Regions from separate parts of the Homo sapiens genome. Here region 1 is linked to region 2. Evidence: fine-mapped expression QTL. A gene starts in region 2. The other region holds a variant in brackets. All regions are shown on one strand. Distances are between the middles of the regions. Region 1 overlaps COLQ (collagen like tail subunit of asymmetric acetylcholinesterase). Region 2 holds the start of EAF1 (ELL associated factor 1).

Region 1 (10,572 bases), 35 kb after region 2:
AAACAGAATCTCTATCCTTGGGCTGCTCAACAGTGGGAAGAGGGGTTTGCACACTACACTCTAGCATTCCTTCTGAAGTGAGAGGAGTGTCTTGATTCCCTCATCTTCTCAATCGAGTTCCTAATGTCTGAGTTTGAAACTAAAATATTCACTCGGATTTAACTTTTTTTTCTTTTTTTCTTTTGTTTTTGAGATGGAGTCTCACGCGGTTGCCCAGGCTGGAGTGAAGTAGCGTGATCTCGGCTCATTGCAACCTCTGCCTCCCGGGTTCAAGCAATTCTCCTGCCTCAGCCTCTCGAGTAGGTGGGATTACAGGTGTGCACCACAATGCCTGGCTAACTTTTGTATTTTTAGTAGAGATAGGGTTTCGCCATGTTGGCCAGGCTGGTTGCGAGCTCCTGACCTCAAGGTGATCCACCCACCTCGGCCTCCCAAAGTTCTGGGATTACAGGCATGAGCCACCGCGCCCGGCCTCGGATTTAACATTTTTAAATATTTAAAACGTTCCCAAGACTTAAGTTAAAAGGCAATGTCATATAGTCAAGTAATTTGACATCTGGAAGTGATTCTTAAAATTATCCTACTCAAAGATATTCTTTACAGCATTATTTACATTAGTAAAAAGCTTGGGGGTGGCCAATAAGCAATAGGTTGGTTAAACACCAACACTGGTTAAGTAAATTGTAGCACAGCCACACTAGATGGATGATTATGATGAACAGATGTCCAAGGTTTACTTCAAAATAATACAACAGAGAATGGGCAGGAGTGAGTAGGCATAAAGAGAAAACAAGGACACAGGCTCGCCATGAGTTGATCATTATTAAAGTTGGGTGAAGGGTACACAGGGGTTCATTACACTATTTGTTCTGCTTTTATATGTATTTGAAATTTTCCCTAATAAAAAGTTTAAAATGTTATTTATAGAGTGTGGAAACATGGCAGGATTTCAACTAAGATAACAAAGTATAACTTTTTTTGAGACGGAGTCTCGCTCTGTTGCCCAGGCTGGAGTGCAGTGGTGCTATCTCAGCTCACTGCAATCTCCGCCTCCTGGGTTCAAGCGATTCTCCCACCTCAGCCTCCCAAGTAGCTGAGACAACAGGCGTGCACCACCGCGCCCGGCTAATTTTTTAAATATATTTTTTAGTAGAGATGGGGTTTCACTGTATCGGCCAGGCTGATCTCGAACTCCTGACCTTATAATCCACCCACCTTGGCCTCCCAAAGTGCTGGGATTACAGGCATAAGCCACCATGCCCGGCCAAAAGTACATTTTTATACAATATAATCTCAACCATATAAAAGTTAGATTTTAATAAGACAAAGAAAATACCCCAAAATGGACTCACAATCAAATGGACAATTTGGTTTTCCTCTTGATTTTCTCATATTTTCCAATTTCCTATAATGAGGGTGTACTCAGAGTCGTGAAAAAAAGTTAGTTTTACTGAAAGGATTTTACAAAGCCCCATAAGGATCAGGTGAGAGGTCCTCACGGATAACCACCCCAGACTTCTCCCAGAAAGCCTTACCACAGGAACTCGCGGGGAACTGGGCCCATACACAGATTCCCCGTAGGAAGGGTTATTCACATTCATAGTGGGTCCACAAAGACATCTTCCTGGAGGCCCGGGAAATCCTCTTTCCCCTTTGGGTCCCATTATAAGTTGTCCTAGGAAGCAACAGACTGCTGTGTTACTAGAGCCAAGGAAGAGAAGACCAAACAACCAGGGAGATGTGAGCGACCTTTGCAACAGAAAAAAGGTTAAAGTCCACAGCATTTCAGGGTATGCCTGAGGGAGAGGTTCAAAGAGATGCTTTTGATCCAAGACATGGAGGAGCTAAGGTAAGAAAAATAGCTGGTAGGCGATAGTTTCCCCCTCCTTCCTGCCTTGAAGACAGGCAAGATGTCTGGTGTTGCAGCAGCCGTGTTGCAACCAGGAAGTCACAAGCATGAGAAGATAAGCCAACATGCAGGAAAGACGAAAGGCTCATGGGGCCTGGGGCCCTGACAGTGACAGTCAGAGGCTGAATCAAAGCCAGCTACTGCCTGCCTCTGGATTTCTTTATTGGAGAAAAACAATGTCTTATTTGTTTAGACCATTATTAACAGAGGGCTTCTTGCCGACAAACACATTATTGACTGTTAACTTTTATTGTTTTAAAAAACTTTTGTTTTTCTTATATATAGAATTTTTTTTTTTTTTTGAGATGGAGTCTTGCTCTGTTGCCCAGGCTGGAGTGCAGTGGCACGATCTTGGCTCACTACAACCTTTGCCTCCCAGGTTCAAGTGAGTCTCCTGCCTCAGCCTCCTGTGTAGCTGGGATTACGGGTGTGTGCCACCACACCAGGCTAATTTTTGTATTTTTAGTAGAGACGGGGTTTTGCCATGTTGGCCAGGCTGGTCTCGATCTCCTGACCTCAAGTAATCCGCCCACCTCAGCCTCCCAAAGTGCTGGGATTACAGGCGTGAGCCACCATACCCAGCCAATGTAGGATCTTTACAGAGGAATTTCTGGATGTGGGTTTCTTTCATTTCTTCTGGAAGAAAATAGAACATTAGTATATGCTCTGCCCATTTACCCTCCCCTGGTGCTGAAGAAGTGAGGACATGTCTTGAAAAGATATGATCAGAAAGTGTACTCCCTAGCAATGTGGAAGAACTGTGAGGGTAGTACCTTGGTTTTTAAAGGCTCTGATACCCAGGATACACCTCAGACCAATTCCATCAAGACTTCTGAAAACTGAACTGAACCTAGGCAGCATCCACACTTTTATTTATTTATTAAAAAAAATTTTTTTACCACTTTAGCATAAGGCATCCTTTTTTTTTTTTTTTTTGGAGACGGAGCCTCACTCTGTCGCCCAGGGTGAAGTGCAGTGGTGTAATCTCAGCTCACTGCAACCTCCGCCTCTCAGGTTCAAGTGATTCTCCTGCCTCAACCTCCTGAGTAGCTGGGACTACAGGCACGTGCCATCAGGTTTGGCTAATTTTTGTGTTTTTAGTAGAGACAGGGTTTCACTCTGTTGGCCAGGCTGGTCTCGAACTCCTGACCTCAAGTGATCCATCTCCCTTGGCCTCCCAAAGTGCTGGGATTACAGGTGTGAGCTGCCGCGCCTGGTCAGGCACCCATATTTTATTATTATTATTATTATTATACTTTAAGTTTTAGGGTACATGTGCACAATGTGCAGGTTAGTTACATATGTATACATGTGCTAGGCATCCATATTTTTAAAAGCTCTCAAGATGATTCCAATTTGCCCCAAGGTTGAGAACTGGGCCATTCCCCTGCCAGATCATCCTCCCTTCATCCTCCATCCCTCCCCAGCTGCCTCTCAACTCCCTTCTGATCTGGGTTCAAACATCACTTCTTGAAGGAAGACTTTTTGAATCCTCAGACTCTGTCATGTATACCTGGGATACAATTTCATGGTTTCCTATGCCTTTCTTCACAGCACTTCTCTTTGTGATTCTATATATTGTGAGATTATTCCATCAAGGTTGATCTCCAGTAGAATGTCGCTCCACAAGGACAGGGCTAGTGCCTGTTTTCATCCACCAGGGCTTACACAAAGTAGGGGCATGGAAAGTGTTTGATGATCGAATGAATGAATGCCGACTAATTGGAGAGAAAAAGTCTTCAGAAGAGGGTAAAAGTCACATTCTGGCTGGCAGAAAAGCACCAGAACAAAAGCCATCTAACAGGAAGTGAGGAAAGAGAAAAAAAGATGGGGACTGAGAAGAGAAATAGGTAAGGATCCCTTCTTCTGGGAAAATAGCGAGGGGTGGGTTTGGAGGCCAGCCAGTCATTGGTGTCAGGCAGTATGACATCTGGGGCAGCCAGGGGCTGGGAACACAGTTCACAGATCCAGAAGGGCAGGAAATAAAATGACCCCAGGGGAGAGATCTGGCCAGGACCCCAGGGAAAACACTGCAGTCGGAGGAGACTGAACTTTCCTGAGCGAGTTGACAGGTATTCGTACAATCAGAATGCTGACAGCATGAGGGGAAGGGCACTGTGCCAATATCTTATCCTAAGTTATGGTTGTTTGTTCTAACAAGAAATACAAATATAATTCTGTAGGAAGAGCTCCAGTCTGTGTTCTGATATTTTCAGAAGAGCCCAGAGAGACAGGGAATCCACCAGGCTAGGAATATTCTGGGTAATTAAGCACTTGGGGAAATTGAAGTGGAAAAGCTCTGTGACCAAGAATATGAGGGTGGCATTGGAACAGCCTTCCAGAAGGCTCTGTGACCCCAACAACTCCTCCAGAACCATGGCCTGAGAGACAGTCAGGAGTTTGTCCCATTAGCTGCTGATGAATGGTGAGGCTGAGATTTGAATTCATGTTTTACTTAACACTATGCTGTTCAAAAGACAAATGTCCAAGAATACTGATGCTCTCAGGAAGCTGGCAATTCCCAGGTACCACGTTGATTCACTTATACTCTGTCTGGGTACAGGAAGGACTCAGCCAAATTTGTAATTTGATTATTGCAAATTACATCCTAAAGGCATTTTGCCTTTATTCCCCCCCCGACCTCTTAGCCCCTCTTACCCTCTAACTCAGATAAGTACAAAGCTCTCACCCTTTCCACCTCCCCCAGCACCATCTGGTCCCACAGAGCTGGGCACCAGAAACCGAGGTCACCTCCCAACAGGATGTGGCAGGGAGCCTGCTGCCACCACTGCA[G/C]TTTCCCTGCAGCTTCCTCCCAGTTGCTGCAGGGCATCTGTTACCCCTGCCTGTTTTCTGCCAGGCTATACTAAAGGACTCAGCAACCTGAACTTCCCCACCCTGACCTCTGGGAGATCATGTCTCAGCTGGGTTTCATCGCCACCCCCTGCAGCCAGAGGACCTGGCTCTCCATCTTTTCCCAGGCAGGCTCCCGCTTCCATTGGCTGCCTCAGTGGGAAAGGATCAGGAAAGGGGAATCTAGGAGAGGGCAGAGGAACCAGCACAACAACCTCTAGGGCCGCCTGGCTGACACTCACCCATTCTGGACCAGGGTGGCCCCCAGTCACTGCTGTGACCTTGCAGGCATCACTTCTCTTTGAGGTTCAAGATTCTTTTCTCTAAGGGGAGGGTAGGACTAGACCAGGGGAGTTTTAACCTGTGGTCTACAGAGGCCAAGGCTATCTCACGATGGCGCTGGGACAGGGGTTCTGGAACCCTGGGAAACAGGGTGCAAAACCTTGGATGTAGGTATATACAGTTTTTTCCCCCCCGAGAATGGGTTTGGGACTTTCATCAGACTGTCAAAGGTAGTGTCAGGAACCAATTTGGGGGGCCTAGTCCAACTCTGGATGATTATCCAACTGGTCCCAGGCACAGGGATAACTTATTTATTTATTTATTTATTTATTTATTTATTTATTTATTTATTTTTGAGATGGAGTCTTACTCTGTCGCCCAGGCGGGAGTGCAGTAGCGAGATCTCGGCTCACTGTAACCTCCGCCTCCCGGGTTCAAGTGATTCTCCTGTCTCAGCCTCCTGAGTAGCTGGGATTACAGGTGCCCGCTACCATGCCCGGCTAATTTTTGTATTTTTAGTAGAGATGGGGGTTTCACCATGTTGGCCAGGCTGGTCTCAAACTTCTGACCTCAAGTGATCCGTCCACCTCAGCCTCCCCAAGTGCTAGGATTACAGGCGTAAGCCACCGCGCCCGGCTGAATATCTCTTTTTAACTCCTTCCTTGCCCTCTCTCCCCACCCCTCCAATATTTTCCAAAGAGCAGGATTATTTATTGCCCCATCTTCTCTTTACCTTCTTCAGCCCGCTCACTCAGGAAGCCTCCTCAGAAAGGAAGTGGCTCAAAGGACGGAATGGGGGGCGGGGGCATCAATCCAAAGAGATGGTCCCACCCTGCTTGGCTCCTAAGGAGATGAACTGTGAACCCACAGAACCCCTGCCTGGGAGCCCCTGCAGGAAGCAGCCCTGTCCACCCACATACCAGGTGCCACTGGGGATGTGAAGCTGACTCAGCCGCCTACCTCGCCCTCAAGGATCTAGTGGGAAGATGAAACACATCTGCAGAAACGTTACCAATGGAGAGGCCATAACAGAGAGGCAATGACCAGGGCTCAGGGGAGGGTGATCCATCCTGTTAGGGGCCAAGGAAGGCCTTACTGAAAAGAGAGCTTCAAAGGAACAGAGAATTTTGTTGGATGGACAGAAGGTGAGAGGAGTGCCATGTAAGGTCATGTGGACCCAGAGAGACCATAGGAATAGCTCCAGCTCCACAGACGGCAAGGTGTCCTCTGAAGGGTAGAGGGCAGGGCGTGATTGGGCAGAGGCTGGGGTAGTCAAGGGAGAGGGAGGTGGGCATACTGGGTGGAAGAGAGGGAGCTGGAAGGCCAGGGAGAAAAAGTATGACTCTGCGGGGCCTGCTAAGAGGACAGGATTGCAATACACCGAAGACAGACAAGACAAGAGAAACAGCAGGCACCAAGAAGCTGCTGACAGCTCCAGCCTAGCCCTTCTCATCCATCCCCTAGCCCCAGGAGGGAACCAGACAAGTCAGGTGAGGGCTGGCCTTTACAAAGAGATAAACACAGTGAGACCATTAAGATCCCAGTCCGCTAAGGATCTCCTACACATCCCACATCCACCAATCCCATTGCCCCTGGACTACTCCTCAGTTTTTTTTGGTTTTGGTTTTGTTTTTTTTTGTTGTTTTTGTTGTTTTTTGTTTTTTGTTTTTTTTGAGATGGAGTCTTGCTCTGTCACCCAGGCTGGAGTGCAGTGACTCGATCTTGGCTTACTGCAAGCTCCGCCTCCCGGGTTCATGCCATTCTCCTGCCTCAGCCTCCCATGTAGCTGGGACTACAGGCGCCCGCCACTACGCCCGGCTAATTTTTTGTATTTTTAGTAGAGATGGGGTTTCACTGTGTTAGCCAGGATGGTCTCGATCTCCTGACCTCATGATCTGCCCACCTCGGCCTTCCAAAGTGCTGGGATTACAGGTGTGAGCCACCGCGCCTGGCCTACTCCTCAGTTTTGTGAGCCCCTAGGTACCCCAGGGGCCAAGAGAGTCCCTTCTGAAGGCACAACTCAGGCCAAGCTCTCAGTCTCTGCGGTTGGTAGCTCATAGTTATGGGGCTCCAGGGGGACATCATGCCTTCCAGAACCAAGGAGGAAGAGGACTAGTTGAAAGGACCCCCATTCAGATCATCCAGCCAATTCCAGAAATGAATTATGGAGTGTGGGCACATGGCCTGGGCTGCATCTCAAATCTGATTCCCCTAACAACATGGAAACAGGCGCAGCAAACATAAGTTATTACCCATACTAATCAGTGTTTGTTCTCCCAGTATTTCCTTCCTCCTCTCCCTATTTCAAGGAGGTAGCAAGAGTTTGTGCTTTCTTGCCCTTGCTAAAAGCAGGTACTATTGGAAACAAACTTTTCTTTCTGCCTTCTGTTCTCTGAAGGACAAAGCTCCTAATTGGGGTGCTGGTATATGAGGAGTATGAGGAAGGAGGGGTCAGGGATGGAAGAGGAGAGACCTCCCTAGACATGGACAGGAGAGGGACCCCTTGTATCCTGAGAAAGAGACAGGTCTCAGAAAGAATGGTTGTGGGGTGCTCCTTGGAAAGTTGAACTGTGGGGACCAGGACTCCCAGCCTTGAAAATGTTCTGATACCCACGTATGGCATGAGAACAGCAGCCACCAGGTATCTGTGGACCACAGGGACTTGGACAACAAGTCTATTTCTATTTCTACTCTATTTCAGAGGTGAATGGAGTAGACCAAAGGTTGGAGGGACCTTCCCTGACATTTTTCTGCCATAATTCACCAGGATCTTTGCCCAACCTATTTGTGGTTGTTGGAGGAGTAGTGAAAATCCTAATAATGCCTGAATTAATTTATTTGGCATCCTAGTAGGTTGGACTCTCAGAGCCAGATTTAACTTAGTTTAAAGGATCTAACAAAATATGACATTTCTTGCCCATCCCATGATGTGGTTGCAAATATAGTTCCATAAACACAGGAGGAGGGGGAATACACTGTGGAATTGTAAATGTCTTCATTTTCTTAAGAAAAAAGTTGGAATAAAAATTGTTTGGATTCCTTTTGTATAACTGAAGACAGAAAATGTTGCAGTCAACAAATGATCTTCTTGATACTGTCTTTATACAGTTGATGTGCTGTGAAAGCCCCTACCATGAGCTGACAAGGGAACGAAATAAAGGGCTTAGCTAATAAAATTGAATGAGGTAAAAGAGGAAGCAGCAGCTGGGTGTGGTGGCTCACGCCTGTATTCCCAGCACTTTGGGAGGCCGAGGTGGGCGGATCACGAGGTCCGGAGTTCCAGACCAGCCTGAACAAAATGGTGAAACCCCATCTCTACTAAAAATACAAGAATTAGCCAGGCGTGGTGGAAGGCACCTGTAATCCCATCTACTCAGGAGGCTGAGGCAGGGGAATCACTTGAACCCGGGAGGTGGAGGTTGCAGTGAGCCAAGATCGCACCACTGCACTCCAACCTGGGCGACAGAGCAAGGCTCCGTCTTGAAAACAACATACAAGGAAGCAGTGTATCTATGCCCTTCTCAATAACAGACTTTATATTTTGATTTATTTATTTATTTATTTATTTATTTATTTATTTATTTATTTATTTTGAGATGGAGTCTCGCTCTGTCACCCAGGCTGGAGTGCAGTTGCGCGATCTCGACTCACTGCAAGCTCCGCCTCCCAGGTTCATGCCGTTCTCCTGCCTCAGCCTCCCAAGTAGCTGGGACTATAGGCGCCCGCCACCACGCCCGGCTAATTTTTTGTATTTTTAGTAGAGATGGGGTTTCACCGTGTTAGCCAGGATGGTCTCAATCTCCTGATCTCGTGATCTGCCCACCTCGGCCTCCCAAAGTGCTGGGATTACAGGCGTGACCCACCGCGCCCAGCCAACTTTTTATTTTTTTATTTTATTTTAGTAATTTCTTTCTACATCTTTTTTTTTTTTTTTTTTTTTTGGAGACAGAGTTTCGAGATGGCACAATTTCAGCTCACTGCAACCTCCGCCTCCCAGGTTCAAGTGATTCTTCTGCCTCAGCCTCAGAGTAGCTGGGATTACAGCCGCGTGCCACCATGCCAGGCTAATTTTTGTATTTTTGTATTTTAGCAAAAACAGAACGGTTTTTGCCATGGTTGACCAGGCTGGTTTCAAACTCCTGACCTCAAGTGATCTGCCCGTCTCGGCCTCCCAAAGTGCTGAAATAACAGGCGTGAGCCACCCATGCCCAGCCTCTTTCTCTAGCTATTGCAAACAAATAAGGACTCTTTTATAACACTGTAAATTGGAAAAAACCTGCAATGTCACCTTTACTTCTAGGTTTAAGAGAATTGCTTGGAGCCATGACACTTTTATCTAGAAAAAGGTATTAGTTGATGAAATATGTTCCTGTTATTTTTCACTTAAGGTATAAATGACATCATTAATGTGCTTTTTTTCTGTCCTCTATTTGTTCTCCAGAATGCTAAAACAAATTCAGAATGGCATTTATCTCTCTTGCATAAAAGTTGAATGAGCTAAATCGTGGAGAAATTACAAAGATATTGGAGTGTCTCTGGTAGTTTCTAACTTGAAACACAAGGCATCTCTGCTGGCATCTCCTTGTGCCCTCTCTGGGAGGCTGGCCAGTACTCCAACAGTGGATCAAGTGAAGCAGTGTAGCTCTTACCTGCAGGTGGGGGGCCTGGGGGCCCCGGACGGCCAGGTTGACCAGAAGGCCCAGGCTTGCCTGGTGGGCCCATAACTCCACTATCCCCTTTCTGTCCCTGACAGAGAGAAAGGCAGAGCCTGTTATGAAAGCATGACATAGCAAGCTTCCCGCCCCATTTATCACCAAATCAGAGATCACCTTGCACTTAAGGAGCAAGAGCCCAGTGGGGGATGCAGCTCCAGAGGTCTTGACCATCGAGCTCTTAATAAGCTTAGGGCAAGTGACATTTGAGATAGTGATGGCTACAAATTTGTAGACCTTAGTTCTTGCTCTACAAATGTGGCACATGGCAGCTGAAAGGAACCAGTCAAATCTACTCTAGGCCCTGGGCAGATGAGGAAATGGAGGCCTAGAAATGAGCTATTTTCACTCATTGGCTTCCCGTTGCACTCAGGATAAAGACTTAGCTCTTTACTGCAGCCTGCGAAGCCTTGCATGGCTAGGCTTTCCAGCTTCATTCCAGCCTTTTGGCCTTTTTGGTCTTCAAGGGCACCATGTCTATTATCCCCCTTCTCAAGACCCTTCTCTCTGCCCCAAAATCTCTTCCTTCCCCCTAGCCTAGTTAACTGTCACTCACCCTTTGGCTCTCAGCTCAAATGCCCTATGGCAAAGCCTTCCCTGACCTTCCTGGATGGAGTCAGTTCACCCCACCATAAGCTCTCATAACTCAGCCTGTTTCCTTCATGGCATTTATCCCAGATCATAGCATATGGATTATTTGTGTGGTCATTTCATTGATGTCTCCCCATGAGACATACACTCCCTATGGGCTGGAATCTGTCTAGCTCACCTCCTTTCCCCAGATGAAATGAGGGAGGACAAAGATGCTAGAAACACAAT
Region 2 (10,572 bases):
TAATTAAAAAAATCTTTTTGGCCAGGTGCGGTGGCTTATGCCTGTAATCCCAACACTTTGGGAGGCCAGTGGATCACCTGAGGTCAGGAGTTCAAGACCAGCCTGTCCAACATAGTGAAACCCTGTCTGTACTAAAAATACAAAAAAATTAGCCAGGCGTGGTGGCAAGTGCCTGTAATCCCAGCTACTTGGGAGGCTGAGGCAGGAGAATTGCTTGAACCCGGGAGGTGGAGGTTGCAGTGAGCCGAGATCGTGCCACTGCACTCCAGCCTGGGCAATAAGAGTGAAACTCCATCTCAAATTAAAAAATAAAATAAAATAATTTTTTTTTGTAGAGACAGAGTCATACTTTGTTGCCTAGGCTGGTAAGGTTACTATTTTCAAAAGTCTAATGTGGCTGAGTGTGGTGGCTCACGCTTTTAATCCCAGCACTTTGGGAGGCAGAGGTGGGAGTTAATCCCAGCACTCTGGGAGGCAGAGATGGGAGGATCTCTTGAGCCCAGGAGTTTGAGAACAGCCTAGGCAACGTAGTGAGACCCGTCTCTACAAAAAAATAAAACAATTAGTTGGGTGTGGTGGTGTGCATCTGTAACCCCAGCTACTCAAGAGGCTGAGGTGGGAGGATCACTTGAGCCTGGGAAGTCAAGGCTGCAGTGAGTCATGACTGTGCAACTGCACTCCATCCTGGGTGACAGAGTGAGACCCTATCTCAAAAAATAAAAAATAAAAATAGGCTGGATGCGGTGGCTGATGCCTGTAATCCCAGCACTTTGGGAGGCCAAGGCAGGCAGATCACTTGAGTTCAGAAAGACCAGGCTGGGCAAAATGGAGAAACCCTGTCTCTACAAAAAAATACAAAAATTAGCCAGGGGTGGTAGTATGTGCGTGTAGACCCAGCTGCTTGAGAGGCAGAGGCAGGAGGATCATTTCAGCTCAGGAGTTTGAGGCTGCAGTGAGCTCTAATACACACCACTGCACTCCAGCCTGGGTGACAAAGCAAGACCATGTCAATTAAAATAATAATAATAAGATTAACTTAAAAAAAAAGTTTAAATTTTAAAAAGTCTAACGAATGCTAAAACTGTGAAAGGTTGATGGGGAACGAGATACTTGCAATGTCACCAAAGTGTTCCCCACATATTGGTTAATGGCAAAGGGAATTTTACAATGGAGGAATTAGGTAGTTACTATCTTAACCCTGTGATCAAAACCAGTAAGATCTCCAGATATTATTGCCTCATGACAGGATGTAATATGCAAGACACAACATTACCTATTAAAGCATTTTTGCCAAAAATATTTTACCTGATTTAAATTTAACTTCTAGTTCACAGATAATATAGAACATAGAGGAATAAATTAAACAGTAATGCAAATAAACAATTAGACCAATTTGGAAATTTACTATAGAAAATTGGCTTCATCTGTCATCAATGTGGAAAGAGGTATGGGGTAGGGCAAGGGTATTTTAGGTTAAGGAGATTTAAAGGACATAAGTGAGCCAGGCGTGGTGGCTCACGCCTGTAATCCCAGCACTTTGGGAGGCCAAGGCGGGTGGATTACCTGAGGCCAGGAGTTTGAGACCAGCGTGGCTAACATGGCGAAACCCCATCTCTACTAAAAATACAAAAATTAGCCAGGAGTGGTGGGCACTTGTAATCCCAGCTACTTGGAAGGCTGAGGCAGGAGAATCACTTGAACCCAGGAGGTGGAGGTTGCAGTAAGCTGAGATTGCACCACTGCACTCCAGTCTAGGCGACAGAGCGAGACTCCGTCTCAAAAAATAAACTAAAATAAAAAATAAAGGACATAAGTGTAAGAGGTAGTGCTTGACTGGATTATAAACAGCTATAGGCAGGGTGTAATCCCACACTCTGGGAGTCTGAGGAGGGAGGATTGCTTGAGCTCAGGAGTTTGAGACCAGCCTAGGCAACATAGGGAAACCTCATCTCTACAAAAATTTAAAAACTAGCCAGGGTCAGCTGCCATGGCTCACGCCTGTAATCTCAGCACTTTGGGAGGCTGAGGTGGGAGGATTGTTTGAGCCCAGAAGTTCGAGACCAGCCTGGGCAACGCAGTGAGACCTTATCTCTAAAATAAATAAATAAACAAATAAACACTAGCTGGGCACGGTGGCACATGCCTGTAGTCCCAGCTACTTGGGAGACTGAGGTGGGAGGATCTGCTTGAGCCAGGGGGGTCAAGGCTGCAGTGAGTTGTGATTGGGCCACTGCACTCTAGCCTGGGTGAGAGTGAAACCATGTCTCAAACAAAAACAAAAACAAAAACCAGCTATAAAAGACACCTGGAAGCCAGGTACAGTGGCTCATACCTGTAATCCCAGCATTTTGGGAGGCTGAGGCAGGTTGATCACCTGAGCCCAGGAGTTTGAGACCATCCTGGGCAACATAGTGAGACCCCATCTCTACAAACAATTAAAAAATTGTCTCTGCTACTTGAGAGGCTGAGGTGAAAGAATCGCTTAAGCCCAGGAGGTTGAGGCTGTGGTGAGCCATGTTCATGCCACTGCATTTCAACTGGGTGACAAAGAACCCATCTCTAAAAAAAGTAAAAAATAAAACTAAAAGACACCGGGAACTATTTGGGGAAATCTGAATTTGGAATGGATGTTAATAACATTGGGGGATTATGTTATTTTATTTGTTTATTTAAAGACAGTCTTGCTCTGTCACCTAGGCTGGAGTGCAGTGCTGCAATCTTGGCTCACTGCAACCTCCACTTCCCTGACTCAAGTGATCTTCCCACCTCAGCCTCCCAATTAGCTGGGATTACAGGTAAGCACCACCATGCCCAGCTAATTTTTGTATTTTTGGTAGAGACAAGGTTTCACCATGTTGCCCAGGCTGGTCTTGAACTACTGGGTGCAAGCTATCCACCAGCCTCAGGCTCCCAAACTGATGGGATTACAAGTGCGAACCAACATGGCAGGCCAGATTATAGTTATTTTTGTGAAATATGATAAACTTATTGTGGTTGTGTAGAAAAAGGCCTTTTTTAAGGGGAGATGTATGCAAACATTTAGGAGTGAAATGTCTTGACATTTGTAATATACTTTAAAATAGTTCAGCAAAGAAAAATTGTAAAGCAAAAGATGTTAATTATATGGATGTTATTATGGTATTTTTTCCTGCTTTTCTTGAATAAAGCTGTGTTTCTACATGCACTGTATATGTATGTAAGCAGGACAACTACATGTATGGTGACTATAGCTGGTTAGCTCCAGGGAAGACTAGAATTGGGCAAATGAATAAAAAAGGCAGATCAAACAAGATCGGCAAGAAAACAGAAACACAGCAGAATACATAGATGGTGCACCAACCTTAACATATTCAATGGCTCTTGGAGAAAAATCACAGGCATAGGCAAAGATATTCGGATCTTCTTCTAAAAGTGGGAATAAACAGTTTCCAACCCCACAGCCAGCTTCAAGCATTGTTAACTTTTGATCTTCAAACTGGGGAAAGACAGCTCAAAGTTATAGTATATCACATTTGCATAATGAAGAAATAAACCAAACTAAAAGGTCCAGAATATGAGAGGTCTCCGACCCCATGGAGCAGACGATCAACAAGAGAACTAATAAGCAAAAGCTAATACTGGTACTTCATTTGTCATCCAACATTAACAATTTGGTGTGGAGGAAAAAAACAGCACAATGGCTAACTCGGCTCTGGAGTTAAACTGCCAGCACCCAAATCTCAACTCCTCCCCTGCATTCTATCCTTGGGTAAATCACTTAAACAGCTCTGTGCCTCAATTTTACCTTGGGGACAAATGAGTACAATACTAATACTTACACTTCACAGAGCCGGTATAAGGGTCAAATGATAGGCCATGTAGAAAACAGCCATGGTAAATAGTTACTAACATTAACTATTATATTATTCTGAATCTGTCACTGAAGTCACTTAGCATGAATTTATATTTTTGTTTTTAAAATTTTTAATGTTTAAAATTTTAAAATTCAGAACATAGGGTCTCACTATGCTGCCTAGGCTTGGCTAATTCATGTTGACTATTCACAGGCACAAGCCGCCTGCCTCAGCCTCTGGAGTAGCTGGCAATAGCCACCAGACCTGGCTCTTGAATTTAATATATAATGTTTACAACTATCAGATCAGCTTAAAGAAATAGAAAACACCCACTAAAGTTCTCTCTCCTATATGTTAACCAAACCAGAAACTGCTAAAACTTTGGTGTTAAGACCAAACAGTATATTTCTCTCCTAAAACGCAAAGCATTTTGATAGGCTTCTTAAATTCTCTACTTCGCACTCTCCCTAGGAATGCAATACAGCACACCTCTTCACATTTTTTTTTCTTTTGAGACAGAGTCTCGTTCTGTCACCAGGCTGGAGTGCAGTGGCACAATCTCGGCTCACTGCTATCTCCGCCTCCCGGGTTCAAGCGATTCTCCTGCCTCAGCCTTCCAAGTAGCTGGGACTACAGGCGAGCACCACCACACCCAGCTAATTTTTGTATTTTTAGTAAAGACGGGGTTTCATCATGTTGGCCAGGATGGTCTCGATCTCTTGACTTCGTGATCCGCCTGCCTTGGCCTCCCCAAGTACTGGGATTACAGGCATGAGCCATGGCACCCTCTTCACATTTTAAATGAAGAACAGCTCAGATAAGGCGTAATATTAGCTTACCTCTCTACATGATCTTAGCTCCTCAAACTCTCTGGTGGTCCAGTGTCTGTCTTTGAAGAAATTAGTGCTATTTCTTTTGTAAAAAAGATCCCAATTTTTCTGAGCCTCTTGTTCCAATTTCTGCTGTTTAAAATCAGACACCAAAGTTTGGTCTCTTTTCAGTTTCTCCTCTTCTTCAGAGGTGAGAATCCTTGCCTGCAGCCCTTTCCTTTGCAAAGAAGCCATCTCTGAAACTGACGGTAACACTTAACACAGCTGAAGATTCTCCATCACCAAATAATATGAATCCACGCTAATGGATCAGATACATTTCCTGAGGTGAGTTTCACGCCTCAAACAGCACAGGGGGCTTCGCAGAGAAAAGAATTAGATTCTGGTTAGTGGTTACAGTTCAAGACGCCAGGTTCAATTCACCAAATGTTTATGAGATGCAGACTGTACAAAAAAAAATCCTTCCCGCTATATGAGAGGTCACAAAGAAGACAAACACACAGTCCCTACCTTCAGTGGGCTTACATTCATTTCAGTGGCCAGACTATCTCATGCACCATACTTTTATTCAAACCAGATGAGTCAACTATTACAATAAATCGATTTAGTTTACGAAAAAGGACGCTCTCAAGAACTGACTGGGAAACCTTGCGAAGAAAATATTCCTCAATTTTCGGTGCCCGCGAAAGGGGTGACTTAAAAACCACAATGGCCTTAGCTGGAAGCGGGTGGTCAATTGTCAGATACAAGTGAGGTCATCGTTTCCCAAGGGTCGGACCTCCGTTTTTTCGGGGGAAATGAAGCTAAGCCTGGGTGGGCTCATTTCCTGATCACACTCACAAGAGGCTGTCATAGGAACCAGAGGGAGCGTCACTTTGCAGGGACTGAGACCCTCGCACCGCCATCACCGGGCAAAGTGGAGAAAGAGACCCAATGACGCGTGGCTGAGGTCCCGAGGATCCATCTCAGGACCCTCAGGATAGACTAGGCTGCATGGGCCCCTAGACCCTGAGGAGGGCGTCCATGATGGCTAGCCGACCCGCGTTAATTTAGTCAGCCACGCTCAGGGCTCACCGTCATCAGTTCCTAAATTCACCTGCAGGGCTAGGGCCAGGCGCACTCACCCCACAGCCAGCCCCACTGGGCCTCGGAGGCAGAATACGGGAAGAACCGCGAAACAACCCTAAACCAATTCTGAGGACCACGAATTCGGATTATCCGGGAGTTCTTTTGCCATGGCACCGCCCCCGCCACTTCCGCTAGGAACCCGGAAGTTCCTACCCGACGCCGGAAGTCCCACGGCCTTGCCTCCTCAGATTCCTCTCTCACCCCCACGCAGAGGAGAGAACTTGCTTCTGGACCCGGGTGGGTGCCGGCTCGGCTCTCCTTGTCTTCCAGAGCGGTGGCCCGGAAGCACAGTCCTCCCAGACGCCAGCGCCAGAAGCTCGGATCGCGGCTGCACCGGGAGAGCGCCGATCTGGGTGCGAGGCAGGTGCGGGGCCATGAATGGGACCGCAAACCCGCTGCTGGACCGCGAGGAACATTGCCTGAGGCTCGGGGAGAGCTTCGAGAAGCGGCCGCGGGCCTCCTTCCACACTATTCGTTGTAAGTCAGCGCTCCCCACGGTTCCCTTCGGCCGCTCCAGCCGCCACATATCAACCTTGACTCCTTCCTTTCTTCCCTCGGCCCTTCAGATTCCAGGGAACCCCCTGCCAGCGTCAGTTACTTTCTCTCGAACCCCAAATCCTTTGGGACATCGATTTGTCCCTTCTTTTACCCAGATTATTTCTCCCAAATCTTCGTCACTCCCTACTATTCTTCTACCTCACAGTCTCAAACACTAGTTCCAAAGGTCTTTGGCCTCTTTCCATTTCCATCCCTCCCCGCCCCCAACCTCGCCCCTAAGGCAAACCTCCCTCCCCCAAGGCAAACCTCCCCCCTCTTATCCGGGTCCACTTCTCCCTCGAAACCCCTCCCCTCCTTTCCGATGCTCCCATCAGGGTTCTCCACATTTAAAAGACGCTTCTTGTTTGTTATGAGCCTCATCCACTGCCTTAGAACCCATTCTCTTCCCTGCTTTTCTCCTCCGACTTGGTCCTGGACTCCCAAATACTGTGCTTTGTCCCCTCTACAGCCAAAGAATTGGCATCCTCTCTGCGCCTCATCAGAGTCTTCTTCCATCTCCTTTCTGTGCTTCATTTGACTTGGATGTCTTTTGAGGTCACCTATACCACCCGGGCTTTTCCTCCAGACCAAGTTCCTTGTGGGTAAAGAGTCAAATCAGAGTTCGTGAGCCTGGGATAGGTTAAAGATTGGTCTACGTTTGGAAGCAGAAGAGAGCAGGCGTAAGGAATGTCCAAATAGTCATTATGCCGGACCTTTTTCTACATAATTATAGACGCTGTTGAGAGAGTGCACTTCCACCCTATGTCCTGGGTGAAGGTTTGGCAGTTAGGAATTGGCTGACAGAGCATCCCTCCGTGATTCATGAACTTCTGGTTTCCGTGGTGCTAACGCTGTTGTTAAGACTTGTTTTTGTCAGAGGACCTAATAGATGTGACTCAACACATGTGAAGAGGGCGTTTTAGATAATGAAATCCCATCTTTGTGTAGTCACTTGCCATGCCATTGCTATGCTTCCTACTGACAGCAGATCCAGCTCTTTCAGAGAGAAGAGATGGGAATAAGATAAGAACATCATTTCCTGAAGAGTTTACTAAGTTGATGTTTTCTTTTGGTGAAGGGCAATGTGGAATTTAAATCATATAGTTCATGTGTGCACCTGTCCTGCAGTTTGAGGCAGGTGTGAATGTGAATTAAGATGGCTATTATGTTGTATTCTAACTGCAGTTTAGAAACACGAGCAGGATAACTTGCGGAGATACAGTTCAGTTGTCTGCTATGAACATCTACGAAGTGTCTTTGTTAAAGCTGTGGAACTGGCTGAGAGTGGTGGCTGACACTATAATCCCAGTACTTTGGGAGGCCGAGGTCGACAGATAGCTTGAGCCCAGGAGTTTGAGACCAGCCTGGGCAGCATAGTGAGACCCCATCACTATTAAAAAAAAAAAAAAACAAAAAACAGCTATGGAACTTGAGTATGGCAAATCCTAATTTTGACAGTTTCTATGCGGAATGAAATCAGCTTTTGATGATGCTGTGGCCTTTCATATTTCATATAGAGTTTACAGTCACAGAATCTGTTTCATATGCTGTTACTTTTGATCCTCACAACCCTAAAAAAGCAACTTATTATGGATGATGAGACAATTTTCCTCTCTCCCTTGGGAGAAGGGAATATCTTTGTTTAATAAAATGGCCTGTAAATTCTTTTTTCCCTCTAGAATAATCAAAAGGGGGTCAGAGGAAAAGTATGTGGAGGTGTAGATGAAACAAGATTGTCCCTGAGTTGGTAATAATTGAAACTGGATAATGGTATACCAGGTCTCATTGTACGATTCTCTCTACTTTTGTGTATCTGAAGTTTTCCATAACGAAACAGTTTTTTAAGAATTCTAAATTATTTTTATTTTCCATTCATCTGAGTAATAATTTTAATTCTTAAATGGAGATGCCCAGGAAACCCTTATTATAAGTAACCTGGTGGGTAAGTGCTTTTTTTCCTTTCCCTTTAGATGATTTTAAACCAGCATCTATAGACACTTCCTGTGAAGGAGAGCTTCAAGTTGGCAAAGGAGATGAAGTCACAATTACACTGCCACATATCCCTGTGAGTTTATTTCATTTTTTTTTTTAATGTAAGATCACAATGAATCTTTGTCTTTTATATTATTGCAATTTAAACTTCCTACTTTTAAAAATGTTTAGATTTCTAAAGTGGCAACTTAAGGAAAAAAGTAATTTTGGGGAGTGGGGTGGGGTGGACTTCATGCTAGGCAGGTGCTTGATTAAAAATAATTCTTGTAATCCTAGCATTTTGGGAGGTGGAAGTGGGTGGATAGCTTGAGTTCAGGAGTTAAAGACCAGCCTGGGCAACATGGTGAAACCCCGTCTGTACCAAAAATACAAAAAATTAGCTGGGGGTGATGGCACATGTCTGTGGTTGCAGCTGCTTGGGAAGCGGAGCTGGGAGGATCGCTTGAGCCTGGGAGGTAGAGGTTGCAGTAAACCAAGATCACGCCACTGCACTCCAGCCTGGGCGACAGAGTGAGACTCCCCCTCAAAAAAAAAAAAAAAAAGATTATTCGTCGTTTTCCCCAATCTTCCTTTTCCCCCATCTGCTACTGAGTAGACAAGGTTCCTGTCTGGACACCTAGCCCCTCTTTTAGATATAGCTTTTCTCCCAAGCAACTCCAGACAGAAAAGCCCTAGGTGCCCTGCTGATTATATGGCCACAACAGCTCAGGAGTGTGAGGCAACCAAGCCAGGAGTTAAGGCAGGCAGGAACCACAGGTGTGGCACATTCAGCTGATTTAGGGATGAAGAACTAAATTGAAAGCTGGATTAAGAACCCTTGCAGAGAAAGACTTTTGTGAAGCTCTGCCCAAGGCAGCACTAATGACAAAGCACCAAAGGGTCACATGATGCTCTTAGTGAACATGTGTTATTGCATGTCACACCCCTGTCCTGGAACATAAGTTCTCGGTAGCTGGAGACAGAATGAAAAGTCTCTGGACAGGGAGATCTGGAAAGCTTTGTGGTGAGGAAAAATTGCCCATTCAAACTGCTGTTTGATTACTTGTTACCTTTGGCAAGTTACATCATCTCCCTTTGGACCTTAGTTTCCCATATGTAAAATGAAAGGTTTAGAAAAATGGTCCCTAAAGTTCTTTCTAGCTCTATATTTTTACTATATAAATAAGGAGTCAAAGAGCCAAGCAGTTTTTTATTCTAAGCAAGGCATTAAATATGATATTCAACAAATATTAATCAAATGCCTCCCACACATTGGCCCATTACTAGGCATGAAGTATATAACCTTGAACAAAACAAGCACATTTCTTGCCCTGGTGGAGCTTATGGTCTGGAGTTTAAATTAATACAAGAAAATATAGCAGTTATTCTACAAAATCAGGGACAGCTTCCTTAAGGAAGTATCTGTGAGCAGATCTGGAGGTTGGGTCATTTAAAGAGAGGGGGCAGGATATAGCTGGCAGAAGCCTTGTTAAAGCTGGCAGAAGCCTTGTTAAAGCCCAGAGGCAGGAGAGAGCTTGAGGATAGGAGGGAAGCCAGTTGCCTTCTGCTCTGAAGCACATGCGCAGGGGAGTATGCTGCAGGGTGAGGTGGAGAGCCAGGGAAGGGCCCGGTAGTGCAAGGCCAAGTGGCTAGTTTAAAGATTTTATCCTTTGGCCTGAGAGCAATTGAGGAGTGATTGAAAGGCTTAGGCAGATGAGTGACATGATTTATTTATTCTGAGCCAACCAGGATAATGACCTTCTCTTGGAAAATGCTCTGTTGGTTGCTTGACATGAGAAGGGGAAACCCTGGTCTCTCTAATGACAAAGAAATAGAGATCACTCACAGTTTTACTATACAGAGTGATAACTCTGCTTAGTATAATGAAAGTAATGGTTAATTTTTCTCTCTTGGAACGTATATAGTAATTAAAACTTTTATACTACCTTTTTGATTACTTAGAACGCGTTGCACATTCACAAATTCTTGCTATATTATTTCTCCTTTATTTTTGCCTCGGAAACCAGAAGGAGATAAAATAGAAATCAGTTCAACCTGTTCTTTTTGAATAGCTCTGATAAAAGATTTCATCAGGTGGAGTCATCTATAAATTCAGTTGATATTCATAACTGGTATGTTTAGTTTGATCATCTTATACTTTTGTGGCAAATAGGGATCCACACCACCCATGACTGTGTTCAAGGGGAACAAACGGCCTTACCAGAAAGACTGTGTGCTTATTATTAATCATGACACTGGTGAATATGTGCTGG

Evidence for each region.
Region 1: its variant is fine-mapped to the expression of EAF1 in whole blood (TOPMed, PIP above 0.99). The same link has a PIP of 0.9 or more in blood mononuclear cells.

Annotation. Positions count from the first base shown.
Region 1 is chr3:15,456,651-15,467,222 of GRCh38, forward strand. COLQ (collagen like tail subunit of asymmetric acetylcholinesterase) reads right to left here. Exons shown (of 17, transcript NM_005677.4): 12 at 9,691-9,787; 13 at 1,536-1,675. Among named protein-coding and RNA genes, the nearest start is that of EAF1, 34 kb to the left of the region's middle. The variant G/C (reference allele first, on the strand shown) is at 4,703.
Region 2 is chr3:15,421,615-15,432,186 of GRCh38, forward strand. It overlaps EAF1 (ELL associated factor 1), which reads left to right and starts at 5,984. Exons shown (of 6, transcript NM_033083.7): 1 at 5,984-6,268; 2 at 8,299-8,393; 3 at 10,473-10,572. The coding sequence starts at 6,166. METTL6 (methyltransferase 6, tRNA N3-cytidine) reads right to left here and starts at 5,930. Exons shown (of 6, transcript NM_152396.4): 1 at 5,788-5,930; 2 at 4,673-5,021; 3 at 3,341-3,475. The coding sequence starts at 4,897. RefSeq lists a silencer at 5,901-6,064 and an enhancer at 6,061-6,340.